6 separate regions of the Homo sapiens genome follow, and all the other regions are linked to region 2. Evidence: fine-mapped expression QTL. A gene starts in region 2. Each other region holds a variant in brackets. All regions are shown on one strand. Distances are between the middles of the regions. Region 1 holds the start of AS-PTPRE (lncRNA antisense to PTPRE protein-coding gene). Region 2 holds the start of PTPRE (protein tyrosine phosphatase receptor type E). Region 3 overlaps PTPRE (protein tyrosine phosphatase receptor type E). Region 4 overlaps PTPRE (protein tyrosine phosphatase receptor type E). Region 5 overlaps PTPRE (protein tyrosine phosphatase receptor type E). Region 6 overlaps PTPRE (protein tyrosine phosphatase receptor type E).

The links.
Region 1: its variant is fine-mapped to the expression of PTPRE in whole blood (TOPMed, PIP above 0.99).
Region 3: its variant is fine-mapped to the expression of PTPRE in whole blood (INTERVAL, PIP 0.95).
Region 4: its variant is fine-mapped to the expression of PTPRE in whole blood (TOPMed, PIP above 0.99).
Region 5: its variant is fine-mapped to the expression of PTPRE in whole blood (TOPMed, PIP above 0.99).
Region 6: its variant is fine-mapped to the expression of PTPRE in whole blood (TOPMed, PIP above 0.99).

Annotation. Positions count from the first base shown.
Region 1 is chr10:128,059,166-128,064,296 of GRCh38, forward strand. It overlaps PTPRE (protein tyrosine phosphatase receptor type E), which reads left to right. Exons shown (of 21, transcript NM_006504.6): 8 at 1,774-1,850; 9 at 2,514-2,550; 10 at 3,918-4,015. AS-PTPRE (lncRNA antisense to PTPRE protein-coding gene) reads right to left here and starts at 3,260. Exons shown (of 3, transcript NR_136150.1): 1 at 2,962-3,260; 2 at 1,522-1,679. RefSeq lists enhancers at 2,803-4,002, 3,334-3,383, 3,794-4,003, 4,343-4,941. The variant A/G (reference allele first, on the strand shown) is at 2,768.
Region 2 is chr10:127,904,043-127,909,173 of GRCh38, forward strand. PTPRE (protein tyrosine phosphatase receptor type E) reads left to right here and starts at 3,061. Exons shown (of 21, transcript NM_006504.6): 1 at 3,061-3,267. RefSeq lists a silencer at 2,905-3,024.
Region 3 is chr10:128,080,752-128,085,882 of GRCh38, forward strand. It overlaps PTPRE (protein tyrosine phosphatase receptor type E), which reads left to right. Exons shown (of 21, transcript NM_006504.6): 21 at 2,081-5,104. The coding sequence ends at 2,155. Among named protein-coding and RNA genes, the nearest start is that of AS-PTPRE, 21 kb to the left of the region's middle. The variant T/A (reference allele first, on the strand shown) is at 2,763.
Region 4 is chr10:128,051,559-128,056,689 of GRCh38, forward strand. PTPRE (protein tyrosine phosphatase receptor type E) reads left to right here. Exons shown (of 21, transcript NM_006504.6): 7 at 4,565-4,655. Among named protein-coding and RNA genes, the nearest start is that of AS-PTPRE, 8.3 kb to the right of the region's middle. The variant T/A (reference allele first, on the strand shown) is at 2,201.
Region 5 is chr10:128,045,334-128,050,464 of GRCh38, forward strand. PTPRE (protein tyrosine phosphatase receptor type E) reads left to right here. Exons shown (of 21, transcript NM_006504.6): 4 at 2,057-2,156; 5 at 2,431-2,504; 6 at 4,197-4,333. Among named protein-coding and RNA genes, the nearest start is that of AS-PTPRE, 15 kb to the right of the region's middle. RefSeq lists enhancers at 1-127, 128-627, 2,036-2,105, 2,406-2,455. The variant C/T (reference allele first, on the strand shown) is at 2,306.
Region 6 is chr10:128,069,129-128,074,259 of GRCh38, forward strand. It overlaps PTPRE (protein tyrosine phosphatase receptor type E), which reads left to right. Exons shown (of 21, transcript NM_006504.6): 13 at 564-699; 14 at 1,173-1,322; 15 at 1,680-1,773; 16 at 3,010-3,086; 17 at 4,209-4,343. Among named protein-coding and RNA genes, the nearest start is that of AS-PTPRE, 9.3 kb to the left of the region's middle. RefSeq lists a silencer at 211-408. The variant C/G (reference allele first, on the strand shown) is at 2,006.

The sequences.
Region 1 (5,131 bases), 160 kb after region 2:
GTAAACCATTCCAAATTATTTTCAACTAGTGTTATATGTGTTCAGCAGAGCTATTTCTGCCTGGGCATTGCCAGTCCCTGAGCAGGAGGGTCTCACAGTGAGGTCTGCAGGACTGTAAGTTTGGGGTCTGACTCCCTGGCCACCCTGTGTGGGCTGTGACTGTCTCTCAGAGCTATACCCGCCCTTTCTCTGCTGGCAGCCCGACAGAGCTGGCTCAACCATCGGAGGTCGCAGGCCACCAGCCCGTGGCCCACCTGGCAGCCTTCCAGGTGAAGGTGAGACAAACAAGGCATGACCTGGGGGCTGCCCGGCTCCCCATCACAAACGCCACAAACACCACAAACACAACCCACCCTGATCAGAGACTAAGCAGAGAAAGCAGGGAGAGGACCTAGAGTTACTCAGTAATGACTCAGGAAGGAGACCCTAAGCTTCTACCACATGCCAGACTCTGTGCCCAGTGCAGCATAAACGTCCTCAGAACCAGCCTGGTCCCAGCCTGGCCGAGCCGGACGTTCCTGGGAAAGGTTACAGGAGGAGCAGGGCCAGGCCCACAGCACTTTTAGAAGCCCATGAAAATGTCTTCATTTCTCTTCAAATCACAAACAAAACGTGCAAAACCCATTCTGGAGTGCATCTTTTCACTGGCGACCAACCCAGTCCTAAGATAACCTTCTTAATAGTTCTATGGAGGAAGCTGCAAAGGCAGAAGTGACTACAACCCACAAAAGTCATGATGGAGCCCTGACGTGTGTGTACACACACACTACATGCACACACACACACACAACACACACACTACACACCCACCGCACATAACGCACACACATACACACTCCACACACACACCACACACTCCACACAAACATATCACACACATACCACACACATACACACCACACACATACCACACACTACACACACACACACACACACACTACACATACACACCAAACCCACATGCACACATTCACACAGCATACACACTACACACATGCACACCACACATACACCACACACACTACACACATGCACCATACACACCACACACACACCACACATTACACACATACACAACCACACACACCACACACACAATACACACACACCACACTCACTACACACACACCCCACACACAGAGCACTCCACGGTCAGCCTTCTACCCCGGAAAACTGCTTGTGCAACAGGCTGGATCTACCAGACGCTCCTCACTGTGCTCGCCTTCCAGCTCTGGGGCAGACTCCGGTGGTGGGACTGAGGGTCAGAGTCCCCAATCCTAGACCCCCACATCCACTTGTCCTCATGGGGCTGGTGCTCATTTCCCTGGGAAGCCTGGGAGAGTGGACCCAGTTCTCCTGTCCTGGGGCTCTTTTAAGTGCACCCACACTTGGCAACACTGGGGCTGGGCCCAGTGCAGGGTTCATAAAATACAGCCCTTGCACTGCCAGGGGCCTGGCACATTCTGCTATTCTTGCTATGTAATGACCCAGCAGCCCCCATCCTGGATGCTGAAATCCTACCCTTGTCGTCATGCCACAGCTGAGACAGTCAGTGTTCACCAAAGCAGGTGCATTCTCTCTCAGGACACTAGTGTTCTCCATGGGAACGCTGAGGAAGAACATCTCTGCCATCCCTGGTGTCGCTGTGAAGCTGCTTTTGCCCTTCCCAGGAGCTGACACTGCAGATGAAGAGACAGCACTGTGATTTCTGGAAGAGACAGCACTGTGATTCCTGGTCCTAATATCTTGGCTTTGTTTGGGTTTTTTTTCCAGATGACCATTCTAGGGTGATTCTGAGCCAACTGGATGGAATTCCCTGTTCAGACTACATCAATGCTTCCTACATAGATGTAAGTGGGCAGAGGTTTCTTGTTCCCCTGGCCCAGCTGGGGCATGAGCAGTAAGCACTTTCTTGTCTGGTGCCCGGAGTGTAAATTGTCACAACCTTTCTGGGCAGTTTGGCCACAAGCACAAAGGGTACGGAACTGCCCGTGCTTTACACACTGGCATCAGCATCTGGGAATTTGAATTCAAGAGACAGAGATGATCACAGAGGATGTTCACTACAGCATTATGTATATTCCTGACCAAATAGAACAGGGAGCATGGGTAGTTAAACAGATTGTGGTAAAACCATGTGCAGTGGACTATTAGAACTTGATTTGTATTAATCTTTAAAAGATCATTTAATATCAATTATAAAATTCCCATTAAAAATACAACATAAAATAAATTGTACATGTTCACCCAATTAGAGGACAGAAATGTCTGCATGTCTGCTTGTGGGTGAGTCTGGGAAAGGTTTGGCAGAAAAACAGACTAGAGAGGGGACGTATGAAGTAGGATTTGTTATTTCTGGAATTGCTGGTGAGTTTTCTTTCCTTCTTAACCTTTTCCTGTGTTTTGCAAATTTTCCATGGTGAATATGTACTGCTTTCCTAACAGCAACACCAACAAATCCTTTCAGCAAAGATAATTCTGAAAAAATATAAATCTGATGTTATTTTTTCTAGGGTTACAAAGAGAAGAATAAATTCATAGCAGCTCAAGGTAAGCTTTTTATTAATTTCTCAACGTATTTTTGGTAACGTGAATAGCTCTTATTTCCTTCTCTGTATGCCAACAAGACCAAGGACTTATACTGGATTTGTGTGTGTGTGTTTACACCTAACAGACACGTTAGATATCCATTCACACAACGGATATGTGTAGTCAGAGAAACACACACTTATTCCCACACCTATATGGTGTGAACACAGGGCACGCA[A/G]TGGCCCCGGCTGCCATTCCAGCTTGTTAATACTTGCGTCAGATAACCTTGAATTTCTCTCAGCTGGCTGAGCCCTACATGGCTCCCCAAGTTTGGGCGAGGGGTTAGTGGGGTGAATAGCTTTTCAGATCAAGGCCATAACTAAGAATATACTTCAGCTGTGAAAACGTGCCCTTCACCTTGCACAGGGCTACCTTGTGTGTTGAGTACTGAATCCAGCATCACTCCGTTCCACCAGAGGTTGTCATCTGCAGGACCTGGTGTACGTGCGGTTAGATATCAGTGGAGCTGAAACCAGATTCCTCAGACTTCCTCACTCTTAGGCCAGGAGTCTTTAGGGCAATGAGCTCTGAAAGTCAGCGTCCATCAAAATCACCTGGGAAGTTGTTACAAATGCAGAATCTCTAAGAAAAAAGGACACACATGTGCACACGCAGAGGCCATCAGGAATGTGCCCAGCTGGAAACCTCAGGAAACCTGACGATCCTGGCTGAAGCAGATGAAAGCATGTGTTTCTCTCTTGCCAGCAGACACCCACAGGGAGCTAGCCCACGGCAGGACAGCAGCAGGGCCAGGGGCTTCCTTATCTCCCCGCCCATCCCCCTCAGCACGTAGCACTTAGCTCGGGACTGCAAAATAGCCGCAGCTCAGACAGGAAGTGGATAGGGGCAGAGGACTTTCTCCTAGTGACACTTTGTCTGTTGTTCACATCCCCCTCCCGAGGGACTTTAGCTCATATCGTATTGGACAGCACCATGCTGAGAGTAAGATTTTGACAAAGAGGAGGGGATTGGGAATGCAGGGTGAGGCTGGCCAGTCTCTGCCTCTCGCAAGGCTTTCACCAGCTCTCCCACACTTGGCTGTAGACCCAGCCCTCATCTGAACCCTGCTTCTTACCTGTGAACGTCATAACTCAACCTGGGCCCAATTATCTTGCCCACTGAGGAGTTCCTAGCTGGAGTGGGTGAGTGGCAGGACAGGCAGCCCCTACCGGTTCCGGAACGCTTCAGGGCATGACGTGTGTGTCCCCAACAAGCCTGAGAAGGGAGTGAACAGCTGTCCAGGGGCCAACGGCCAGGGTGCCGGGGCTGGGACCCCAAAGGGACTTCCCTTCATGCCTTTTGACTTCGAAATTGTCCTCTACACACAGGTCCCAAACAGGAAACGGTTAACGACTTCTGGAGAATGGTCTGGGAGCAAAAGTCTGCGACCATCGTCATGTTAACAAACTTGAAAGAAAGGAAAGAGGTGAGTTCCAGGCATCTGGCCCCGGTATCACTTCCTTTCAGCTGCTGCTGCCGGGCTGGGGATGTTCTTACCACTTCCTTTTCCTACTTCCCTCCCTTCCTCCCACTATCACTGCAGAAAAAAACCCAAACACATGCAGTGGCTTACAGCATTTTCTTCACGAAACAAATCCCCTGTGTCCCCAGCATCTCACTGTTATCTAATCTGTGATAACACAATGACACAAGAGTTTCCTTTTTTTCCCAAGTAAGAGTGGCCCCCGGCTGGCCCCATGGCTCTGCCTGCCTGATGAGAGACATGAATCTTAGAGTTTTAGGATGTTGAGCGTGTCATGCGGCAGAGCTCAGGCTAGAAATGAACATGATTTCGCGCTTATTATCCAGACTAGAGAAATGCTTTTGGAAAACGTTGGTATATTGAAGAAATGTTGATTTGTCATCCGAATATATTTAATTAGCTGTTTCTAATTCAAAAAAGGATGCATGTACGTTATAAGAATTTGAATCATTGACAAAGAAGAAAAGTTGAACTGATTCGTTTCCTAATGTAACAAGTACTCATTAGCATCTGCTGTGCTGGGCCAGCTCTGTCCCAGGTGCAAGGAGTAGGGGCTCAAATTCAGGGCTGAGAAGTGGTGGCTGTGGGGAGCCTGGGTGCGGGGGTGGGGTTGAGTGACAGGCAGGGAGCCATGCCATAGGCAGTGAGCTCACTCTCCAGAATGAAAGAAGAACTGGGAGCCTGAGGGACACTTACCACAGGTGGGGCGAAGTTAGGAGGCTGTGCTTCTGGCGTGTTCTGGCATGAAGGCCCGGTTCAGTGGGAGCCGTGTGTCCTGCCCGGCCCTGCTCAGGGCCTGCTGTGTCCTGAGCTCCTCAGTCATCTGCTGGCCTGGCCCCAGCAGTTCCCAGGCATTGTAGCGAGGACTGTGGGGAAGGGCTGCCATTTTTAGATGGGAGTACCAGGCCTTGGGGAGCTCAGCTGGGGCAGAAGATGGGTGGCAGGAGCCCACAGGAAGGGCAGGCTGGGAGGTGCTCTGGTCCCCGCAGTGCCAGCTTACTAATTGCCACCCAAAACACAGGAAGCAGCCTCCAGCCACCGTTTCTGGTCAGGAATAGG
Region 2 (5,131 bases):
TTGCCCTGCCCCACAGCCAATCAATGATCAAGACCTGCTTTTTTCCTCCTAAGGTTGAATAACTTTATGAGAATGTTTCTGTATGATGTTTAAAAGCAACTTCTTATTTGCTTTCCACACATTGATTTTGCCTTTTTTTTTTTTTTTTTTTTTTTGCTTATTCTCCTAGACAGTATTCCTGGCCTCAGCATTTTAATTTTAATTGACATCTATTGGGCCCTCTAAGCATGATGGGCAGTATCTCAGTTTCTGCAGAGAAACCCAAAAGCCCAGTCCTCAAGTAAAATAGAAGACAAGACAAGTAAGTGCAGTTAATATCAATAATCGCAGGAGCACTGCCTCAAGCTGTGTTTTAGAGGGAAGGGGCTAAATGGTTGGGTGTAGGGGAGGCCTGGGGAGAGCGGGCAGGAGGCCAGCCACGGACAGGCCTGAGACAGGATCAGACAGCCAGTGTGCCAGGGAGCTGAAGAGGACTCTGTGGACTCAAGAAGGGCCCTAAAAGAGGAGTGGTGAGGTGTTCAGGAGGGCAAGAGGCAGAGGAGCTCCTCAAAGCCTGGGAGGAGGATAGGGGAATTGACTCTGATGTCAATAGGGACCTTGAGCCTATGAGAGGCAAAAATGAAGATGGTGAAGAAGGATGAAGGGCTTCCCTGTGGTAATCAACAGGGCCCTGGCACAAACACTTCTGACAACACGCTTCTGTGTGACAATGATGAATGTCTGTAGACTTTAGAAAGGGTTGAGAATTTTTGGGGTCCAGCAGAGAAGATATTATGAGGAAAGAAGAGCCATCTGCCTCCCCATCATGTTACCAAGGCTGTTCACTTTCCAATAGCAGATGTCTGACAAAGGCAAGTTGTTTCTGTCTTCTTAGCTCACAGTCTCTGCCTCCTCAGCCCTGCAGCGTTAACAAGCAAAACTGTGCTTAGCAGAGCTTTGTAATTATGGCCTTCATGTACATAAGCCTGACTCTGTAGACCACAACAGCAGAAAAATCCAAAGCCTGGTGACGTCATGTGCTACCTGGCCCCACCTCAACCTGGGCTGTTCCTTGGAGGTGCACTCAGGAGGGAGCCACCCGCCCTGCTGGGCTCCGAGGTGACCAGGCTGTCTGCTGCTGCTGGCTGGGGCCCATCCTCCTCTGCTCTGACAGCCCAGACGCCTTCACTGAGCACCTCCTGGCTACTGACGTTGCTTTAGGAGCTTGAGTCTGAGAAGCCATGGAGATCAACAGAGCCTAGGCTGCTGGAGCTTACAGCCCTGGGGGTAGGGGAAGAGGGCACGACAGACACAAAAGGAGCCAATAAACCCACAAATAATTCCAAACTGTGATGGAGGATGTGGAAGAGAGTGGCAGAAGAGATGGATGCAGGGCGATCTTCCAGAAGCCACCAGTAAGAAGGAACCAGGTGCACTGGTTGGAGGAGTCCCAGGCAGGAAGGAGCTTGGCTCTGGCACTGAGAGAAAGGAGCCGTGATTGGAGCCCAGCGGGCAGGGGTGAGAGGCTCAGAGCAGCCAGGGAAGTCAGGCAGAGCCTCGTGGGAGTTTGGGTTTTAATATTCCTGGAGGCTTTTAAGCAGGGGGCTAGCAGGACCCGGTTTACACTTTGTGAGGTGCCTGGGACCAAGTGTGAAGAATGGATCATCTGGGAGAGTGGGTCAGAAGCTGGGGAGCCACTGCAGGTTTTGGAGGGGCGCAGGCAGTGAGATGAAAGGGCAAGATGCATGGAGAAGCCAGTGGGAAGTGGACTTGGGCCCTCTGGGAGGTGGACTTGAGGTGGGACACGGAGGCAGGGACAGGGACGACTGCAGAGAAACTAAGTAAGAGCAAGAGGCAGGTCTGAGACAGCAGGAGACAGCCAGGAGGAGCTGAGCTTGGAGGAGAGGGCCCCAGAGTGGTGCTGCTTAGAGTCATTCCCATACGGATGGTGTTTAAAGCTTTGGGGCTAGACAAGGCCCCCAGGGACAGAAATGGGCAGGGCAGGGCAGGGAGGTGGAGCTCAAGTTCTCCACTGGTTTCGCAGCTCTCCGGCCCCTGTGGAGGGGAAGTCCCACTCTGGGCAAATCACGTGGGGGTGGCCTCTGCCAGGAGGCACCCATTGCTCTGCAGCCTTTGGGGTCCGTAGCTCTGTCTAAACAGGCCTTAAGTATGCTAAGAGTCGTCGGCTGGCAATCGGTGCAACGTGGGGTAACACACCGTAAGTGCCACTTTCTCCCCATCCATTCATTCATTCATAAGCCTAATGAGCTGGGTCCCTACCACAGAATGCAGCTTCCCTCATGAGGGCTGGGCCGTGGCCCCATCCAGAGGGCACGGCACAAAGGTTCAGAACCAACATGCCACCAGTGTCTTTTCTGCTCCTTCCAGGGAACTGCCTTTTCTCTGAAAGCTCCCTAAATAGCTTGAGTGAAATTCCCTGGAAGAAGTCGGCTAGACAGCAGGCCCAGTGCCTGGCTCTGTCGCTCTTCTTTCTCTTTGTGCGTTTTTAACTTTGACAGATACTGCCTTCGGGACAAGCGAGCCCTCTTCTACATCCCCCAGACAGGCGCCTTATCCCCTCCTCTTTCCAGAGGAGGCCACCAGGCCCAGCGACCTCACAGCTCTCCCAGCTTCCTCGCACCAGAAGCGCACGGGGTGCCCTGCGTGTCCCACACCTGCTGCAAGACCAGGGCGAGTCCCTAGTCAGGCCACTTCCTGGTGCACAGGGATAGGGCAGGGAGAGGCAGGGCCTTGCCTTTGCTCTCCACCAGGTGTGAGTGCCTGCCATACCCTGACCCTCTGTCTACGCACCTGGGTCCCGGCGGAGTGGCTGGACCAGGCCTCCCCGGAAGGGGCACCAGCCTTGAGTAAACGGATGCCCACAGTGTCTGGGTGCTCCCAGGGCAGGGCCGCAGGGCCTCAGGGCCATACCCGCCTCGCAGGTGGGGCGGGCGCCCTGGATGCGCTCCCCGCGCCGGGCACCAGGCGTCGCCCCCGCTCCTCGCAGCGCCCAGGCCCCCGCCCCCGCCGCGGAGCCACAGCCGGAGCTGGAGCCGAGGCGGCGGCGGGACGCGGCCGGCCGGACAAATTTCCTGCTAGGCTGCGGACAGCGGGCGGCAGGAGCCGGCGCGAGCGGCTTCAGGAACCCACGGCCTCTGCGCGTCCCCGCGACCCTTCTTCGCGCCCGGCGAAGACAGCCGGGCGCCCCGGAGGGCGGCGGGCAGGCGCCCGGGAGATGCGGAGCCTCCGCTGCAGCGCGATCTGCGCGACCAGACCGGCCCCCCCGAGGTGAGCGCGCGTGCGGACAGGGACCCTGCGCCCCTGTGGGGAACTGTGCACCCCGGGAGGCCCAAGCAGGCCGGGGCGCTGCCTCGGCCGCTGCCGCGGGAGGGAGGGGCCGCTCCGGGGCTCAGAGTCCGGACCCCGGCCCCGCCGCCCCCGCGGCGCGCCCAGTACCAGCGGCTGGGGCCCGTACGACCCCCGACCCCGGCCTGTGGCGCGTCCCCTCACCCGGAGTCCCCAGCCCAACTTGGCGACCACAGTGGCAGTGCTCACGCTCCCTCTCGGTAAACAGGAGGAGGGCGCGCGTGTCTGCGGGTGGCTACAGTGCGCGGGGGCCGGCGGCAGGGCGGCGTACGTGAAAGCGGGCGACACAGAGAGGGGGTGCAGGCCGCGCGTGGGGGGCTGCGCCCACTCGAGGCTGGAGGCTGGAGCCTTTGAAGAAAGTGGCTCGAGTTGTGCCAACTCTGGGAGGGGCCGGCGCTCTGCCAGGATGCTGCCCCGCAGCCGGGCGGGCGCCCGCGCCTTCCCAGGGAGGCAGGTGGAGCGGGATGCAGCAGCCGCCGGGGGTCGGAGATGCGGCAGGGAGACCCTGGCAGGTGGTCCAGGCTGGACTGCCGCGATTTGCAGGGTCGACGACCTCACAGGGCTCCTGAGCACAGATGCGAGCGCGGTGCCAATTCTGAGAGCTCCCGGGACCATCTGGGGAAGGCCGGGCAACCCACAGGATGGGGAGGCAGAGCCAAGCCGGATGGAGACCGCGCTGGACCTGACCTAAATTCCTTCCAGGCATGCAAACCTTTCCAGAAAGATTAGGCAATTATACTTGCAGAATTATGATATTGGTTTGTCTTGAGTCGTGACCATTCCATCAGAGTTTCAATCCAGGAAACTCAAAGAAAGAATACAGCTCTCTGCTTGTATTTTAGAGTGAATGAGCGTATAGGTGAGTTGAATGAACACCAGCAAAGAGTGATCACGTGATACAGAAATTACTGTGTCCATGTCCAGTCAGCTCTGCATTTGGCCCCAGGTACCCCTTGACCCAGGGCGTCTGGAGGTCTTTGTGTCCCAAAGATGGATGAAGTTCTGCCTCTGCACACTAACGACTCTTGTCCATTTAAACTGTGTGTATGTGGGTGGGGAGGGGGGGTGTGGAGGGTCGTTTCCAAAACTGGGATAATGGCCAGAGGAGGGCATGAAATGGTGGGGGCCAGTGGCTGGGGCAAGCGTCTGACCACCACGGTCACTCAGCCAGCATGGTATGGGCAGAGCTCTGTGGTGTGAACAGGGTTAGGGTCTGTACTTTCCAAGCACAGGCTCTTGGCATTTGGGGAGCAAAAGGTCAGAGGCGAGGTGGAGCAGGCCCAAGAGGTGGGGGCTGCGCTGTCAGTGAGAGAGGCCTGACGTACCACCCAGCCCTTCCCAGACAAGGCTCTGCCCCTGAATCTGACCTTGGGGGCCAAGATTTTTGTTCATTGATGTTGGTGATGCCTGTGAGTCACCACCGCCCCCTCCCTGCCCCAACAGACCGTTCCCATGTGGACAAGAGCTAGGAGCTAGATTTGTCTCTGTAAAAGGTCAGGTCACTGGATGTGTCCAGATGGCTTGGGACTTAGTCACACACTCCCTCATCAGTTCCAGTCAAACCAGTTGAGGGAAGTCGATGAGGGTGTTATTGTCTTTACGTGTGATGCTTCTTGGAGGCCCTGTGTGGACACAAAGTGAGGACAATGCGGAAAGTCACACAGAGGCCACCTCTCATTTCTGTGGGGGACAGCTGGCAGAGAGAGATGCGCTCCCTGTGTCAGCACCGCCACCTCCACGGAAGCCTGGAGGAGGTCCTGAAGCACTGTGCCCTGATGGGAGCCCC
Region 3 (5,131 bases), 180 kb after region 2:
GGTAACAGCTTGACAGAGCACTTTGTAGCCTGACTTTTAGAGTAAAGGGTCTAGTCCAATGCCTGGCCCGTGGCGAGGGCTCCAGAGCAAGTGGTGAATCAGCAAACGAATGAGGGAGAAGAGTCACTAAATAACCATCAGGCGTTGGGCGCAGTGCAACCAGGTGCCTTACAGATGTCTTTCTCATTTCATCTTCACCATCTGCTTGCCCTTGTGCCTGCTTCTGTTCACAAGGAGTGTTCTGCAGGTGCCTCCAGTTAGGACGGTTGAGGGGCCTGCCTGAGATCTTCAGGTATTAAGTGTCAGAATGAGATTCAAACTCTATCTGATTCCAGAAGGGAAAGGCTTAACTAGTACTGTATGCTGCCAGATCTAACATTTGGCAGGGAGATTTTGGCAAAAAAAAAACACAGGCACAAAAATATTATTGAGTAAAGAGATGATTGCTGACCTGCAGGTTGATTTAGCCCTGCAGGTGAGCACAGTGGCCCAAGAACCAGTTTCCAATTGCTGAGCACTCAGGGAAGACTTGCTTCCAGCATCCTAGGTAGGCTTTGGTTGGAACTGACATTTCAAAGGCCACAAGTACATCTGTTCTCCTGGAGTCTGTGGATTGACCAGAAATGTCTGTCTGTGACCTGAGGTGTGGCTTGTATCATCCGAGCACACTCCAAAGTACACTTCATCCATCACTGGCCCCAATCACTTGTACTCGAGACTACGTGGGATGGTCAGCAGTTAGCTGCTGTGTTAGCTATGAAAACAGAGTAATTAGTGATCGTCTCCATTTCCATCCCAGACTGAGCCAGCTTTGATATTCAGTCAATGTTGCTTTAAGTTGGAAAAGTCAATGTTGCTTTAAGCTGTTTGCCTCTTTAAAGAGAGCCTGTATATTTATTGAGAATTCCTTCTAAGAATTCAATTCCCTTTCCTTCTGAAGGCTGGGTGATCAGCTGCGTGTCTTAGTAGCCAGAAGTGAGGACCCTACAATGTGGTCTTGGCTCTTCCAACAACTTCATGCAAATTCAGAAGCAAAGTTTCAGGCTCACCTTTTCCTTCTCTGGAAAACTCAGCTCCTTCCCATCCTGGCCAGACCGGGACTCAGGAAGGGCTAAGCTAGCTGTTTGGCATCTTTCCACCCAAAAGCATTTAGATATTTGTTCACTGTGTGCTGAGAAGAGCCCAAGTGCAATGTGTTGGAAAGAAGCAGGGAGGTGCTGAGGACAGCTCTTGGCCTCTCCGGCTTTCCAAGCCCCTGTCCCGGCCCCAAACTCACATATCCCACCCAGGGGTCTGGGAGGACCAGCCTATATATAAAACAATGTCCCTTTTGTACAGTAAATGTAGGCTTTAAAATAATCTAGATATGCATTTTATTTAACTTTTATAGATCGCTTTATGAAATTTATCTGGCAATGTTAGTACTCTGATTTTTTTCTCTTTCTTTTTTTTTTTTTTTTTTTTTTTTTTTTGAGACAGGGTCTCACTCTGTCACCTAGGCTGGAGTGCAGTGGTGCAGTGGCACAATCTTGGCTCACTGCAATCTGCCTCCTGGGCTCAAGGAATCCTCCTGTCTCCGCTTCCCAAGTAGCTGGGACTATGGGTGTGCACCACTATGCCCAGCTAATTTTTGTATCTTTTTTGATAGAGATGGGGTTTCACCATGTTGCCCAGGCTGGTCTGGAACTCCTGGGCTCAAGTGATCCTCCTGCCTCAGCCTCTCAAAGTGCTCTTATTACAGACGTTGAGCCATTGCACCTGGCCTGGTTTTTTGTTTTTTTTTTTAAATTCAAAAATAGTTGTTTTCCAGTTTCAATGTGAAAGCCACAGACATTTAACTCAGCCCATTAAATACACTAAGTTGAAATGTTAATACACTAACTGACACATTCTACGTAGAAAAACAGCTTTATTTGGAATTCTGCATGTGCCTAAAAACTAAATTACGATGTGCATAAAGGTATATGGTATTTTAATGAATAGTCACACTTATTTATGTCTTGTTTTTGAGTATTTCTCCTGATTAATCAAATATATTTTTGGGAATATCATTTTAATGTGTCCTTGTTTGTCTTTTCAGGAACAGTATGAATTCTGCTACAAAGTGGTACAAGATTTTATTGATATATTTTCTGATTATGCTAATTTCAAATGAAGATTCCTGCCTTAAAATATTTTTTAATTTAATGGTCAGTATATTTTGTAAAAATCATGTTAATTTATTTCATAGTTGACATTAATATCTTCCCTAATTTCTTTGTATATATTTTGTTATGCCTTAAAGGCCACCTGCTATACAGTTGTTAAATCTTAAATATGCTTTTTAAAAATTGGAATAATGTATTAAGGTCAAATAATATCCCATAAAATATATATTTCTGCTAATATTAGTAAATATCTTAATTTTTCATTAGATTCATATCATTTAATTTCACATATTCAACACCTTTAAATGTTGTAATCTTAATATGCGAAGTGTGCCTCTGCAAGATACTAACACAAAGCTCATGTTAAGAAAACAGTTGAGGACTCAGAAGTCAGTTCGAAAATGCACTTTCCTAACAGTGAATTCACAACCCTGAACAGCAGCATTTTTGGAAGGCAAACTGTTCGTGATGGTACAATGTAAATGGGGACTTCTGTAAAGTTCTCAGTTTCGGTCCATGTGGTTTATCTTTACATTTTAAAGATCAAAGAAGTCTTTACAACCTGAATCCAGGTCTAAAACACACTAGAGTAGCTGGTGACTATAAATAATATTT[T/A]AAAATGCTGTGTCTACACCATCAAGACTGTGTCTACACTATCTTGGCTGAACGAGAAGAGATGTAAATGCTGGGTGGTCCCGTTGACCCACGGCGTTGGGTACAACAAAACCAGCCATCGGAGTTACACCCCAAAGCACCATTTGCTGTCCAGCTGCCTGTCGTTTGGCCCAGACCACCCTCAGAAAAAAACCAGCTGCCTCTCCCATTCTCCCCTCCCGTTCTGCCACAGCGGCCTGGGCTGGTCCAGTGCTATGCCTGGAGGCTCAACACAAAACTTCCCATCCAAACATTCAGATGAACTGAGCGTCTTACACACGCAGTACAGAGGAGCACACATTAGGATAGAAACAGTAGAATAACCACGGGCAATTAAACTTTAAATTTTCTGAGCAGCATTTTGGTATTTAAACATTTCTTGTAAAAAGCTGAGACAGTTTGTAAGAAAAGAATCCTTAAAATCTAGATTTATACCATTTTTTAAAGTCCCACCTTTCAATGTTTAATAAAACAAAAAGAGAAATCCTTAATCTAAAAGCTAAATTATTTTTGAATGGAAATACTACTGAGACCATTGACACTGGATAACAGTAATGATCCCATTACCAGATAAGATTGACTGACGGGGAAAAAAAAAAAAAAAGAATGGGGTGTGAATGTACCAACACTGAATCTTACAGCAGTTATCTTTCTATGGCCATTAGGTACCTAGCAGATGTGCACAATATAAACAAAAAGATATCTGGCCTACCTTACTACTAAAAGCATTTAACACGTGCATTTTTGGTACTTTTTTTTTTGTTTTCTAAAAGCTACATAAAGGCCTTATTTGACATTTTCACTGATAACTGATCGCACCCTCATGTTGCAGTGTTCGTCCCCTATTCATTAACAGTGTGTGCAAATGCAACCCCAGGACACATTATTGTTCTGATAGATGCTCACAGGGAATCAAGCTTCTCGCCCACTCCACGGCTCTGAGCCCCATCCAAGGGCAAGACTTGGTGCCCAGCTGGAAGGACGAAAGCACACTTTGTGACCGCCATCCTCACCAGCTGCATGCCTGGGCTGCACACTGCTGAACGTGCTCCTCTCTCCTTCTCTGTACAATGATTCAGCATCTCGGCGGAAGAGGAAAATGGAGCTTTTTGAGGCTCGCCAGGTCCCTTTTGTTTTCACCATTAAAATTCCAAACCCAAAGCCTTTGTTTGACTGAAGGAGAAGAGAGGGAAGTAAGCTTCTGTTCAGCACCTGAACCCTAGAAAAAGAGCCAGTTTGCTACGATGAAGGTGACATTTCTCTGGTCATTTATTTGAGAGTTCGAAGTCAAAGTCGAGGGGCACCGGCTTTGGTTCATGTCTAGGAGCCCTCTGTCAGAATCCTTGAAGCCCTTTAATGGTCTAACTGGCATCTCTTGTATCAAGAAGTACCTTTAAGGTAGACCTTTTCAGGGTGCCCTCAGGAAAGGGCCCTGCTCATGTTTTTTTCCTGTCCCCTTAGACCAACCCCAGGTGTCCACTGCAGGGGTTCTGCCTGTTCCCAAACTTTTTCCATTCCAGGAACAAAGGAGAAGCCACTTTCCCCAGGACGCAAGACTCTCCCCTCCACTGTCCGGGACAGCGTTCGCCCTTTAGCGGGGAGGTCATTACAGCCTCATGGCCTCTACCAAGGCCCCAGATCACAGGATCTCCTGGGCCTTGGAGCACCTCACGCTGGGGGAATCAATCCCTGAGGGACTCAGAATCTTCTCCGTGCAACCTGGAAAGTTCATCTCTTGTTTCCTTCAGTCAAAGAAAGTCCATTGTACATAACAAAACAGCCCCCAAACAGCCCAGTGCCGACACCATTGTTCCTTTCACACTTTCCTTTGTTGCATGCAGTTGGGTTCAAATGCCAAATAGTGATTAGAAGACGACCATTCTGATCTGTGTGTGATCTGGTCACTATGTGACTGCCTTTACGGTTTCTCTCCATGTGCTATATGAATGAAGAATGCATACCAGTGTTTTAAAAGGTATTTTTATGTGTTTTTAAACACTTTTTTAAATGAGCCTGACACCTGTGTTTCAGCATTTGGAGACATCCCCATGTTATTCTTTTAAGTGTATAATTACTGATACTTTTTTGTTTGTTTGTTTAACTAAGTTGTGTTTAACTTATGTGCAGTCTTTATAATGTATGTATGTTATTACAGTTTCAACTATCATATTTTCTTTGATTACATTTATAATTTGATCTTGCTCTGATTATAATGCCAGTGAATGTTGCTGAACTCTTTGTATATGCAAATTGCAAGATTTAAACCATTCTGATGCAAGGATAAACCTTTACTTTGACTACCAGCCTGTGTTTTTGTCTTTAAATCTCTT
Region 4 (5,131 bases), 150 kb after region 2:
GTTTCATATTTTGGTCATCATAGATTTTGTGCCTTGATTTGGACTTTTAAAAATATTGCATTCGAATATTATTTCCCCTGGTTTCTGAATTTTGGGGGCACCCCATTAAATTTTGCACCCAGAGGAAGTTCCTCATTCTCTTCTGCCACTGGGTGGCCCTTGGCTGAACATTGGAGTCCTTGTGCTCAGTGACAGGCAGGGTAGAGACGCGGTGGAGGGGAAGAACACTGGACCCAAAGTCAGGATCACGGAGCCTGATCCTGTGTCTGGGGAACCCTGGGGGAGCTGCTTTTTTGTCATATTTTTGTTTTATTTGTTTGTTTGAGATGGGGTCTCGCTGTGTCTCCCAGGCTGGAGTGCAGGGGCCTGATCACAGTTCACTGAAGACTCAACCTCCCAGCTCAAGTGATCCTCCCACCTCAGCCTCCCAAGTAGCTGGGACTACAGGCATGTGCCACCATGCCCACTGGCTTTTTTACTTTTTTTGTAGAGATGGGGTCCCACTGTGATGTCCAGGCTGTGCTTTTCTGCTCATCTGTCCAGTGAAGGGCTGGCCATGTCCTGAGTCCACGTTGATGCAGCACCCGTCCTCTGAGAGCACTGGAGCCTGCCATGGCCAGCTCTCTCTTGGGTCCTCAGAGGGACATGCTCCCAACCCCATCTTTCTTTTCTCTTGCCGTCTGATCTGAGCTCCTCTCCCCAAAATCATGAAAGGGAGACACCAGAGTCTCAAAGTGGCCGATCCAGTTGAGTTTTGACATGTGTGCATTGCCAATTCAAAGTGCAGGCAAACTTGGTGGGGATGAAAAGGATTTGATATTGGGGTCAGTACAGTGAATGCTGGAGTCGGCCTGAGTGTTTGTCCCGGCTCAGAGAGCTTGGGCAATTAACCTCTGCCTGTTTCCTCATCTATGAAATGAGGATACTCCCTGCCCCCCATAGGATTGTGATAACATGGACATGAGGTTGGATAACCTGGACATGCAACTGAATCCTTACGAGACCGCACTCTGCAATCTCCACCCTGCACTGGTAGAACACCATCCTAGGAAAGTCTGCTTCCAGGCCCCAGAGTAAGTCCTGGAAAGTGAGCACCACTGGGCCAAGGAAAATCCCCCGCTTCAGACAGGCTCGTCCCTACCTCCATCCTAGCAAGTTATGTCAAGCCAAGTGCCTAGGACTAACACACTGATACGTGCTGTAAAAGTGCAGAGGGAGGTGTCAACCGCAAAGCTTCCAGCACAACAAACAAACCAGAACCATTCCCTGGAGCTCCATAGAGCAGCTGGGGCCTCTTGCAGAACTGCCCACACCTAGCTTCTTGTACACTCTCCTGCTGCCTGCCCGACACTACCGAGCGGAGAGAGAAAGGAACGTGGCTCATGAGTTCATTGAAATGAAATCTCTAGGCCGGGTGTGGTGGCTCATGCCTGTACTCTCAGCACTTTGAGAGGCCAAGGTGGGCAGATCATTTGAGCCCAGTAGTTCCAGACCAGCCTGTCCAACATGGTGAAACCCCATCTCTACCAAAAAACTACAAAAATTAGCTAGGCGTGGTGGTGTGCACCTGTAATCCCAGCTACTCAGGAGGCTGAGGTGGGAGAATCACTTGAACCCGGGAGGCAGAGGTTGCAGTGAGTCGAGATCGCGCCACTGCCCTCCAGCCTAGGTAACAGAGTGAGACCCTGTCTCAAAAATAAAAATGTTAAAAAAGGAAAGAAATGAAATGAAATCTCACCTCAAACAGACAAACCACAAACAATTTGGACAATTTACATAATGGGACAGCCAATCACACAATATTTATTGGCCAGTTACTATGAGCAAGCCCCAAGCAAGACACTGCAGGGCTCATCCAGGTGTGCAGACCCCTCCAGGTGCTCTCCTTTCCCCTGGGCCACCTGAGCAGCTCAGAGATTTGAGACCCCAGTAGACTGACAGCCAGAGAAAGGGCTGCAGAGTCCATGTGGGTGGTTATTCTGTGCACTTGGATCCAGGATACATACGTGTGCGGTGCACAGGGCCCGATGCCCCTCCCCACTTCAACTTTGACCCTCTGTGCATCTGGGTGGCTACGCCCCATCTCCATGGTCTGGATCTCTGCAGCTGCCAGGAACACGCAACCGTGGGGTGTCAGAGCTTGGTCCATCCTCGCCATCCAATCCCTCCAGGGAGCCTTCTCAATTTCTTTTAATTTATT[T/A]ATTTATTTATTTATTTTTTGAGAGAGAGTCTCTCTCTGTCCCCCAGGCTGGAGTGCAGTGGTGAAATCTTGGCTCACGGCAACCTCCGCCTCCCAGGTTCAAGCGATTTTACTGCCTCAGCCTCCCAAGTAGCTGAGATTACAGGCGCCCACCACCATGCCCAGCTAATTTTTGTATTTTTAGTAGAGACGGGGTTTCACCATGTTGGCCAGGCTGGTCTTGAACTCCTGACCTCAGGTGATCCACCCGCCTCGACTTCCAAAGTGCTGGGATTACAGGTGTGAGTCACCACACCTGGCCTAATTTATCTTTTAACAGACTTTATTTTAGAGCAGTTTTAGCTATACAGAATAATTGCACAGAAAGTACAGAGTTCCCATATGCCCCCTTCCTCCCCTGTGAGCAGTTTCTCCTATTATTAACTTCCTGCATTTGTGTGTTTCAACTGCTGCAATTGATGAACCAACACTGCTCTGTTGTTACTAGCAGAAGTCCACACGTCAGGGTTTGTGTGTTGCGCATTCTGTGGGTTTTGACGAATGCACAGTATCATGTACCCACCATCCGGTATCATGCCTCCCGTGTATTTTCAGTGCTGGGGCCAAAAAAAGCTTTTGCGGGTAGAAAAAGAGAAGGCTCTAGAATTTTACCACAGATGTCAGGCTTAGATTAGGTCAAGAAGGTCAGTATTAAGATAGCCCTGATGAAGAATCAGGAACTACAGGCGGCGTAGGTGCTGGTGGCTGGGGATGAGGCCAAGAACCACCTATCACCCTTGCCACAGTGCCGCCAGACAGGTCCCTCCACATAGGCCACCCTCTTGCCTCTGCTTTGGGACCAACAAACCCCATGGCCTGGAAGGGCCTCAACCTGTGGCCATGGGGTTTGGTGGCCCCAAAGCAGAGGAAAGAGGGCGGCCTACGGTGCCCCACCATGAGCTCCAGCTGGTCAGATCTGAGTCTGCAATTGGAGAAGCTTCCTGCCCTCAGGAGAGGAAGACTCGGGACACCTGTGGGTGGCAGGTCAGGCTGTGCTCTGCATTGTGAGCAAGCCCAGGCCTGCACGGCTTGGATCCAAAGCTACGCAGTGAGGCCTGCTCTGCTCTCCTGGGTAGTTGCAGCGGGACCCCTCACATTCTCCTACATTTGAAGAAGTGAACATCCTCCTGGTAGTCTGGGTGCCGCTCTAGGCTCCTGCCCCTTGCTTGCTGGGTGACCCTGGACAAATCTATAACACCTCGCTTTGGCTTTCAGTTTCCTCACCCATAAAACGGGGACCATCCTAGTATCACCTAATGATAGGTGAGTTGCAAAGGCTGGGGCAGATGACCCAGCTCCTTCCACCGTACCTGGCGCACTGAGACACTCAGTGCATATTCATGCATGTTACTGGAATCCCAGTGGCCCCGGGTCCAGCCGCTGGTCGGGTGTAATGTCAAAGGACAGGACTCAGGGCTTCAAGAGGCTCTTCACACTGTGCATTGTGGGGAGCTCACCTGAGCAGCGAGCAGACGCAGGAGACAGCTGGAGATGACCAGGAATCAGAGATGGCGGCTGCAGGCGGCAGAAAGAACTAGAATGCAGGCCACCAGAGTTCACGCTCGGTTATGCTGCTCAGAGGGGATAGGGGCCCCGCGGCATTCCTTGCACACCTGACTTCCCTGACTGGGACAAAGGAGTTGGTTAGCGTGGTGCTTCCCAAAGACGTGTGCACTGAAGCCCTGGGGATCATGGTAATGTTCGTGCTGATTCTGTGGGTCTGGGGTGTGGACAGAGCATCTGCATTTCTAACAAGCACCCTCCCGGGAGTGCCCAAGCCACTGGTCCACAGAGCACACCTGGAGTCTTAAGCAAGATCAGGACTGTATCTAAGGCTGTTTCCCGCCCCTTGCCTCCCAGGACCGCTCTATTCATCCTTCAGCCCCAAAGTCACAGCATCCCGCTGTAAACCCTCCGCATGCCTGTCCTCGCTCCCCCATCTCCCGGTTCACAGTTCTGTCGTAGTCAGTTCTTACCAAATCATAGGCACCTGCTCTAGGCCAGGGTCCATGGGCCCTGAGATACCATGGAAATGCAAAGGCAAGTCTCCGCCTTCATGCAGCATAGGATCTGGCTGATGAGACCATCACTTTGGCCACACCACTGTTCACCCCACATGAAAGAGCACCCTGGGGAAAGCCAGGGTCTGTGTCTCCTTCATTCTCTGCCCCATGCCTGGTGCAAGGTCTGAGGCAGAGACGGACTATGGACAGCAGGTAGTTTGCTCCACGTGTTTTCATTAATTCCTGTGCTCAGTAGGGAAACTGACATGAGCATGGTGCTTGAATCCATCACATTTCATACTAATGCTACATTTTCTTCCAGTCATTGCCATCTGGACACATACAAGGAACTTTTGAACTGGCAAATAAAGAAGAAAACAGAGAAAAAAACAGATATCCCAACATCCTTCCCAGTAAGATTTTATTTTATGTTTTGCATGATCAATGGTGTTTGCACTAAACTCAGCTTTGCCTTGCAGCTCCCCGTGACTGCAGGCCATTCCTGGTGCTCAGAGGCCCCAAATCAGTCTAACTGCTCAGCATTTGCACCTAGGACTCCAGAACGTTCCTCTTTAGGTGCCCATCTCCCTGCACAGGCCCTGGGTACCTTGGTTGCTCGTGGGTCTGGCTGCCAAGCCTATGCTTACTGTTGGGACCTGGGCTGCCTGGGGCCCAGCGGGTAAGGGTGCTGCTTCGTGGCCATGGGTGCCAGCTGGCAGGGCCCCTCCTGTGGAACTCAGGCCTGGCACCCAGTCTAGGCCTGCCAGTGGCCCTGGGCAGCTCCCTTCCCTCAGACTCAGTGCTTGTGACCACAAGCTGCAAATCCCTAGAGTTGTCTGGGGTCCTGGACCAATGACAAAAATAATAGAATACGAAATTTGTAGGTGGG
Region 5 (5,131 bases), 140 kb after region 2:
GGGCCCAGGTGCTCCCTCGTGTCTCTCTCTGATGAGAGGACCCCATGAGTTGGCTTGGACTAAACTTAGTAGTCACCATCTCTGCAGAAGCTGAGCCCAGAGCCTGACCTCTGTGTGATGCAGAAGTGGGAAGTTTCATTGCCTGGGGCCCCGGGAGATGAGGGCAGATGTACCTGGGTACATTCGAGAGGGAGGAGGGGGACCGAGGCCCAAGCTTTCTGGCTGAGTCTGGAGTGTGAGCAGCAGCCAGGCCCTCCGTGGGGCTGGGCTCCAGGCTGCCCCTCCCTCCGTGTCAGGGGTCTTCCCACTCAGCCTGTCGGAGTTGCTCCAGGGCCCTGGCAGAGTGGAGAGGGGTGCTCTCTGGAGCTGCAAGTGTGGAAGCCTCAGGCCAGCTCACTTCCCCAGGGAAGCTCTGCTGTGGGCAGGTTGGAGGTCAAAGGCGGGGGACTGTGGCAGCCACACCCAGCCACTCATCCTAGCACCAACCGAACCTTGTGTGGGGCCAGAACCAGCTCCTCTGGGCCAGGGTCACAGACACCTGAGTGTGGGGGCTGCAGAGGACAGCCAGGCTGCCAGGCTACTGACACTGCTAGCCAGATGGGGGAGGCACGGACCCCACCTGGAAGGTGGGCACTTAGTGGGTGGGCCAGGTGAACAGTGCCCTCTCTCACGGCTGGGGCCACCTCCGCATCACAGACCAGCTGTTTCCTCTGTGAACTTCAACATCTAATGGTCACCCACGTCCCTAAAACTTCATCATTTATGAGAAACGATGGTGCGGACCACTCATAGGGTGCCAGAGTCAGTGCCAGGCCTGGGAGGGTAGGGGATGAGGGAGGAAAAGCCACACCTTCCCTGGGGAGTTTATAACCTAGGGTGCAAGGCGGAAGGCATGAGGGTCCCTTTTAGAATCCAGATGAGGGGTGTGAGGTGAGCGGAGCCTCTGGGGCTGCGGAGCCCTCCCAGTGCCCGGAGCACCCTCGGGAGGCCGTGCCAGCCCTCAGGAGGAAGCGCATGGACCCTGCGCTGGGCTCAGGGCAAGTGATTGGTGCTTCTGGGAACTTAAAGAGTTGGAAGCCCGGTCGTTGCCTTCGAGGGGCTTCCCCAGAAACCCGGGAGCCAAGGCAGTCATGCTGAGGCCTGTTCACTCATGGCAGAGCGAGGTTTGCGCTTTGAGGCATCCAGGGCCCCTCTGGGTCCACAAGAGAGGAGTCCAGTGGGCTTCTTGGAGGTGGGGGCCTTTGAGATTGTCCTCGAGGAGTGGGAACATTTTGGTGATGAGGGGGCTGTGTGGCCAGCGGGGGAGGAGCAGGAACAAAGTGCGACGTTGGGAGAGTGGGTGGGGTCCAAAGGTGGCAGCGAGGCCACCAGTGTCCCTTGGAATTTGGGCTGATGAGCCAGGGGTGGGTCCTGAGCAGCAACAAAGCCACTTAGCTGGGCCTGGGGCTGTGGGTCTCTTTCTGGGTGAGGAAGGTCAACCTGTCAGGTACAAAGGACACAGTAAGAGGCCGGTGGTGGCTGGGCACTCGGCCTCTGACAGGTGGAATCGGGACCTGGAGGCTCTGAAAGGTGGGGTCACAGTGCGCCAGGGCCACAGGCCTCTGCCCAGCCCCAGGGCCAGGCCGCCTCCCTGTGCCTGAGCTCCTGCCCAAGCCCAAGGGGCCCTAAGAGCTGAGCTACGCCGAGTCAGCCTCCCGCGCTGTCCTAGGACCCTGCAGTGGACACCGGCCCCTTCACCCTTCTCCAGCTTCTTAGCAGGAGAGCCAGGCAGCCAGGCCGTGTGGGGGTCTGGGGAACTCACCCCTGTCATGCCTGCCCCAGGGATTTTGGACAAGTCACCTCACCCACTCCTCAGTCCCGGATTCTTTCTCTGAGTCAACAGCAACAACTAAAGTCGCTTCTCTGTTACCTCGTGGGGCCTTTTCAGGATGATGGATCCACTTTACAAAATATAGTTTGGGGTTCTGGTGTCCAGGAAGAAGGGCTTATGGAGGGAGACTCTTTTGCAAACTGTGAAGTGAGGTCAGGGGTTAGGGTCTTTCTGCTTCTCCTGCAGGCCCTCCGGACCCGGGCGCCTCCCAGCCGCTGCTGGCCTGGCTGCTACTGCCGCTGCTGCTCCTCCTCCTCGTGCTCCTTCTCGCCGCCTACTTCTTCAGGTAGGAGTGTCCCGGGGCACTGACTTGCCCCAACCAGCTCAGAGGAGGAAATGAGCCTTCTGATGCTGTGGGCGTGGGCTGTGCAGCAGAGGGCAGCTGAGAGGCTGGGTGGCTGGGCCTGGGAGACACACAGAGGCCAGGCCTTAGCG[C/T]GGCTCAGCCATGAGCAACAGGAGTAGCTTTTCCCGGCTCACCTGGTGGGTATCACTGTGCCGAGCGCTGTTGGCTCTCGGGGAACCTAGAAGTGTGGAAACCTAACGCATCCTGTGTCTCTAAGGTTCAGGAAGCAGAGGAAAGCTGTGGTCAGCACCAGCGACAAGAAGATGCCCAACGGAATCTTGGAGGAGCAAGGTACAGAAGCTGCTCTCTGGCTGGGGCTTGGGGGAAAATGTGTTCTTTTTTAGCAGACACTGAGGTGCTTTCTGCCTTTAACGTTCAAAGTAAATTTTGAGGTGTGCCTTGCCACTTTCATCTCACTCTACCTGGTATGATGCTGTCATTTAGAATTTCACTATTTCAAAACTTTAAGGATCATTTTTCTCTCGGGTGTGACATGGACGTTTGAGACATTTTTGTTTGTGGCTTTTTTTAGAGAGACTGTTCATATCCTGTCGTTTTCACAGGGTGTTGACATGTAACACTTTTCAGTGAGGCCTTACAATCATTCTCAGATAAGACTGTCTGGCTCAGAAACTATTCAGCTGGGTTTGTACTGCTTTAGGATCCAGCTGGAAAAAGAGACTCGCTCTCCTGAAGTGCTTCATGTTTACAGAGCATCAGAGTCAGCTGGGAGCATTTCCAACTTTTCCATCCGAAGTACAGTTTCGAACTTGTTGTCGCTACTTACAAAGGAACATTGTTTTTCTCTCCATACATAGAGATGAGATGACCGAGAAACGTGTGTAAGGCAGAGGCCACAAAAATATTGCTTCACACCCCAGTGACTACAACTTCCTGGAGTCAGCTTCCTACCTAACTGTAGTCAGTTCTATGGTTTGGGGGAACACACGTGCCGTCAGACTAAAATAGACTCTTAAAACGGACCCTTAGATCATTAAAAGAATATCACCAACAAGGACCCAGCTGAAATGTAGCCTCCCAGCGCTCGCGGGACCCGAGACCTGGTTAGACGATAATGTGGCACCAGGTGCTGTCTTCCTGCCCTCGTTCCAGTCCCCGGTTCCCTGCCCTGAATGTTTCAATAGCAGGAACGGAAGGGAGGAGGGTGCGGCTAGTGAGTAGCAGGGAAGCTCAGCATCACTCATTCTGATCCCATCTGTCACTTGGAGGAATGAGTCTTGGGTGAAGTTTTTGGCTGGGCTTCAGAATGGCTCTGCAGGTGGGGACAGGCCCTTTTGCAAGTGTGACAGCTGGGTTATCATGTTGACCTTGTCAATATCAGCTCATTCTCCAGGAAGAGAAAGACATGTCCATAACTGTTCTTGCCTCTCACTCCGAACTTGGGGAAGGAATGTGTCCAAGAACTCCCTTATAACGCGTACTTCTCCTTCTCAATGCCCCTTGTCACCCTCCCCAGACAAGGGTGGTTTTCCCTTGGAGCTTATGGGGTTTGAGGAACCAGGAATATTTGTTATGAAGAAGAAAAGGCTGAGAGAGAACGTTCTGAGTTTGCTCCCAGAAGCCGTAATTACTCTTTCTTATTTCCAAACCTGGAAAGCTGAGCTGGAGAGTGAGGCCGTCTTGAATCCTTTTTGGAAGGAGCAGGGGCTGGAGGGAAGGAGAGGTGGGAGGGTGGGTGGATGAGTGGCCTCGGGAGGGGGACAGGCTGTCTCCAATGGGGGAGAGCAGGTGACACTGGGCAGAGGGACGCCCGTCACTTGTAAATGATGTGGATGCCTCACAGGAGGCGAGTGTTTGGATACAGCTGCTCGGGACCCGGCTTAGCCCAGCTATGCGATTTGAGAGAACTGTTCCAGCTCCAGCCTGGTCATTTCTTCAGGAATGTCGTTGGTCAGCTTGGTTACTCAGTCGCCTATCCAGGAATGTGGCTAAATGGCCCCCATGTTTCTTTTGATCCCACAGAGCAGCAAAGGGTGATGCTGCTCAGCAGGTCACCCTCAGGGCCCAAGAAGTATTTTCCCATCCCCGTGGAGCACCTGGAGGAGGAGATCCGTATCAGATCCGCCGACGACTGCAAGCAGTTTCGGGAGGAGTTCAACGTGAGTGTGGGGAGGGCTCTCTGCTGGGTGCCCTGTGGTGGAGACCTGTGAAATCCAGTGTTAGAGTTCAGGATGAATTATCCCAAAGACTCAGAACCCTTGCATCAGTTATGACACTGTCCCATGAATGGGCGTGTGAGGAAACCTGGTGTGTGGTGCAGTGCCCTTTGCCAATGCTTATTTCCTCATTTATAAGATGAGACAGTTGAGTTAGAGGTTTGTGAAGCCTCCTTACACCTCCCCACTCTGAGTGTCAAGTTCTAAAATCAACTGTGGCAGAAACACTGTTATCTCGATAACACAGAAGGCTAGGACCTGAGCGCGGCACGGTATGACAATATCATGGGGAAAGTAACAGAGCCCCAAACCATCCTTTCATGGCTTCTGAGAGCTGGAGCACCTAATCAGAGTAGGCGATGTTCCTCTTCTGAACCACCATCTCGGCATTAATGAAGCAGCTGTGAGCTGCCTTGAGAGAACACTAGCTATATCTGCTTGTGTATCAACATGGGTGGGTGGGTGGGTGGATGGATGGATAAGTGGGAGGGCAGAGGGATGGATGGATGGATGGGTGGATGGATGGATGGATGGATGATGGATGGATGAGTGGGAGGGCAGATGGATGGATGAATGAATGCATGGATGGATGGATGAGTGGGAGGGCGGATGGATGGATGGATGGATGGATGGATGGATGGATGGATGGATGGAGTGGGAGGGCATATGGATGGATGAGTGGGAGGGCAGATGGATGGATGGATGGATGGGTGGATGGATGATGGATGGATGAGTGGGAGG
Region 6 (5,131 bases), 170 kb after region 2:
AGTCTGAGCAACACTCGCTTGCTGGGGCCAAGCAGAGGCTGGACCCCACCCCACCCACCCTCCAGTGTAGCTCATACTGGGAAGAATTTGCAGGGTCAGATAACAGTAATCTGACAGATGCCACCTCACTTAATGCCCCGAGTCAGATGACTTGGTTTGCCCAGTTTGACAGAGAGGGAGGCTGGATACCAGAGCTGTTGCATAGTTGATCTGAGGTCCCTCTGCTCCCAGGGGGACAGATCTAGGATGCCAATCACACATATAAGAAGAAGACACTGTTTGGTAAGTGAGAAAAATTCTCCACACAGCCTAATCCGAGGCTTACTGCACCAGCTGTTAATGTGCCTCTTAGTAGAGTGTCGGTGGCTATCAGAGGACCGGCCTGAGATCACTTTACTGAGACCACAGCTCCCTCTGGTGGCTGCACTGTAGCTTTGCTCCTAATTAACCAAAAAAACAAAAAGTTGCATCCAGTGACCTGGGTGCGCAGGCCCCTTCGGGGCCTTTCATTTACTTCGGGAGGAGTGTGACTCACGACGCAGCATCTTTCTCTTTCCCCAAAGCGCGGGCGTGGGCCGGACGGGCACCTTCATTGTGATCGATGCCATGATGGCCATGATGCACGCGGAGCAGAAGGTGGATGTGTTTGAATTTGTGTCTCGAATCCGTAATCAGCGCCCTCAGATGGTTCAAACGGATGTGAGTCATGCCTTCCTCTTGCCCTGATCTAGCTTCCCAAAGCAAACCCGATGCCTTCGCCACACAGGTGTGCAGGGCCCTGGCTCTGATGGGCACGTGGCAACCAGCCTGGGCCTGGCCTGGCTTCGCTCCCCATAGCCTTCCCTGCCCACGCGTGGGACCTCAGGGACTCCCTCGTCCTCATCTTTCCCTCGTATCCTCATGTGAGATGGGGCAATCCTACTCCCCCAAACGGTGCATGTACACAGTGCGTGGCGTGCTCACCAATGTGAGGCTCTGCTGCTACCGTTCTCCTTACTCAAGGGCATAAATGGTCGTTATCCGTGGCCGGTACTCTGACTCTTGCCTCACACCTCCTTGTGTTGGCAAAAAGAGAAAAAGAAGAAAGCCGCCCTCTTTGGTCTGCCAAGCTCCACGTGGGCCAAGACTGCAGGGCAGAGTTGAGGGTGTGGGCACCCCTGGCCTCTCTGCAGATGCAGTACACGTTCATCTACCAAGCCTTACTCGAGTACTACCTCTACGGGGACACAGAGCTGGACGTGTCCTCCCTGGAGAAGCACCTGCAGACCATGCACGGCACCACCACCCACTTCGACAAGATCGGGCTGGAGGAGGAGTTCAGGGTGAGTACAGCTGACCCTCCTCTCCATCCTGGTGTAAGCAGCCAAGGGCACGAGGAAAACAGGTGACCATTTAAAGGAAGCCTCTTTCAATCACTTGCCCCTTAACTGACCTCAGAAAAAGCAGGGGCAATACCTGAGCCATGATTTACAAGGGAAGAAGGATCAGGTGGCTTTCAGAGCCTCATAGCAGCCCTACTAGGCACACATTTGTATTTCCCAATGCTAAGGAGGCTTCCTGGGTTGGAGAGTGGTTTCCTTTGAGCAGGCGTCCTTGCCAGCAGCACTAGTCCTCGGCTGAGCAATGTGCTCAGGAGTGTCAGAGGTTTAACTGTGTCATTATATCCTTCTCTGCTGCAGAAATTGACAAATGTCCGGATCATGAAGGAGAACATGAGGACGGGCAACTTGCCGGCAAACATGAAGAAGGCCAGGGTCATCCAGATCATCCCGTGTAAGGCACCCGTGGCGTGGCTTGGGCAGGGCTGGGGCGGGGCTGGTGCCGGAGGCTTTCATCCTGGAGAAGCCATTGACCGCTTACCCCTGTGCACCAGGGTCAAAAGCAGGGTGTCCTCTGGCCTCAGGCTAAGGGCTCCTGTGTGCTGTACCAAATGTCAGGTAGAAAAGACACCTGTGAAGCACCAGCTGACCCAGACAGTCCTGCATGGGTCTCAGGCAAGCTGCTT[C/G]GGATATGAGCTTGCAGATGCGGGAGGGCAGCCGAGGCTGATTTCAGGGGAGGGCTTCACAGAAGCTGGAGATTTGCGGCAGGCACGACTTGGGATTCCTTGTCTCATTCCTTGTCTCCCCAAGCCTGGGCAGAGGCCCGCCTCCCCCTTACACAGAGGGGCCTGAGCCACCCAGCCGAGGCCATGCAGGTGAACTCAGCTGAGACCACCTAGGAAAAGGCTGTGGCCTTGAGGAGGACAAGAAATGGGCCTAGGGTAGAGTCAGGACACTGGTCTGCCACCCAGGTCATGGGAGAGGGAAGGAGGACCTGGCAGGTGTGGGAGGAGTGGAGGCAAAGCTGGCAAGAAGACAGGGCCACATGCAGTGGGCAGGGGAGTGGGAATCGGGAGGCTCACCAAGTGGGAAAAAGAGAAACTTGAGAAACCCGGCCCCAAAGCAGACTCCACAGGGATCCGAGGAACTAGGGAGGGAGGTGGGAGATGCCCCGCTTGGGAGGAGGGTGTGCCTCGTTATAGACTTGTCCTCGACAGAGTCACAGCTCAACAAACACCATCTGGAAACAGCTGGGAGCAGGCCTGCTGCAGCAGGGTCTCCCCGAGCACTGCAGGCGAGTAGAGCTCCCCGGGGTGCTGCCATCTTCAGACTCTGGCCCTTGGTTTTCTGGGGCCCCGGTGTCCTGCTGGCCACTCTAGATTGCTTGCCTGGCCACATTCCATTTACTCCTTCAGCGCAATATTTTTAGTGCTTGTATTTTGGTATGTATTATATCGATTCCTGAAAAATGAAAATGATAATTGGGTGGTTTTCAGAGTTTTCCTTCAAAAAGAAAAATACCCCTGAGCCACTTTAATTATCGTCTCTCATAACGTAAACTTTCCAAAGAGTTGGCTTTACGTAGTGATTTTATTAATAGGATCTATATTTTGCAAGCTTGTAGCAATGGATTAAAGTTAGCAAGGTGGGACCCTTTTTGTAATAACTAAAGGAAGATAATGCTTTGCAGATGACTTCAACCGAGTGATCCTTTCCATGAAAAGGGGTCAAGAATACACAGACTACATCAACGCATCCTTCATAGACGTACGTATGCTGGCCTGGGTTGTGTTTATGCAGATGTGTTTCCTTCACATGTGACCACAGACTTGATTAGCTTGTTTTCACAATGAGAAAGAATTGACATGTTTCCAGAAACTCAGCCATTTTTGTTAGCAGAATTACTTGCTTAAAAAAAAAAGTGGCAAGGCACGATGGCTCACACCTGTAATCCCAACACTTTGGGAAGCTAAGGCGGGCAGATCACTTGGGGTCAGGAGTTTGAAACTAGCCTGGCCAATATGGCAAAACCCGTCTCTACTAAAAATACAAAAATTAGCTGGGCGTGATGGCAGGTGCCTGTAATCCCAGCTACTTGGGAAGCTGAGGCAGGAGAATTGCTTGAATCCGGGAGGCTGAGGTTGCAGTGAGCTGAGATTACACCACTGTACTCCAACCTGGGCAACAGAGTGAGAGCGAGACCCCCTCTCAAAAAAAAAAAAAAAAAAAAAAAAAAGTGGACTTTGGAAATAGAAGGACATAGACTCGCTGCTAAGTAATTGGCTCTTTTTTCATTCTGCTTTTAATATATAGTTATTTTTCTTTTACATATCTGTTACACACCAATTATATATCCACTGCCTCTGTGCTCTTTCTCTTGTGTGATTTCTGCAATGTGTACCCACGTGGACAATACAATTATGTGTTCAGGGCACACAGAGGCTGTCTTCATGCACAGTGGAGTTCGCAGAAGAAGGGCAAAAGGGGGAATGGCAGCCAAGTGTGTGTTCATATTGCCATTTGCAGATGAGAAAATTGTACCAGAATCCGGTGGGCTCCATGCTGATCTAGCTGAAACACACAGAAACATGTTAGAATCTAAGCCACCAGGTGCTGTTCAGGTGGCCACAGGCAACTACCAGTTCATAATACCCATTTGTTGATGACCTCAGGGGCTGACGGTGGCCGTTATGGTTTCAGATAAGCGAGCTTCTTGACCTGCTTGTCAGGTGTGTGCCTGAGTGCTCGTGCCAACTGGGGTCTGGTGCAGACCATGGAGGATGAGAGAGTTTTCCTCATTAGGCCTTAGGCTGTCCTAAACTTAGGGAGCAGGTAATGGAGCCAGGATGGAAGGAAGTCAGACTCTAACCTCTGCGCCTCCATTTGAAGGGCTACCGACAGAAGGACTATTTCATCGCCACCCAGGGGCCACTGGCACACACGGTTGAGGACTTCTGGAGGATGATCTGGGAATGGAAATCCCACACTATCGTGATGCTGACGGAGGTGCAGGAGAGAGAGCAGGTGAGGAGTGCCGCCCAGCCCGGTCCCTCCAGGGCAGCCTGTGCACCTGAGGCACTGTCCCCGTTCATTACAAATGTCCCACCTGCCATCACTGCAAACACATGGGTGAGACCAAGCCAGGACCACTAGGGAAGGAGAGAGATTGGAAATGAAAAAGGTTTCATTTCACCCTTTCCCTTTTTGGGAGTGAGGTTTAACCATAGCTACCCGCTGCCCTTTATCCTTAGCCTACATGTTATTTAACCTGCCCTGAAATTCTGCCATTTGGTATTGGCCAAGATCATAACCTGTTGAAGAAAAAGACATTTATTGACTTTTTTCAAGACATGAAGACAACAGTAAACCCAAGGTTTACCAACAATGTACATCTATCTGGGTTCTCCCCCAAGACATAACTACTGCTGTGTATTTGTGTTTTTATTTCTTTGCTCTAAAAAGGAACAGCTTTATTGTGATATAATTCACCTATAATTCATGCAATTCATCTTTTTAAAGGGTACAATTCAGTGAATTGGAGTATATTCACAGAGTTGTGCAACCACCACCACTATCTAATCTGTGATCATTTTCATCAACCCAAAAGGAAACCTCGTACCATTAACAGTCACTCCCCATTCCTTCCTTCCCCTAACCCCTGGCAACCACTAATCTGCTTCCTGACTATGGGTTTGTCTATTCTGGACATTATTATAAATGGAATCATACAGTATGTGGTCTTCCGTGATTGGGTTCTTTCACTTAGCATCATGCTTTCAAGGTTCATCTATGTTGTAGCATGAATCAGTAAA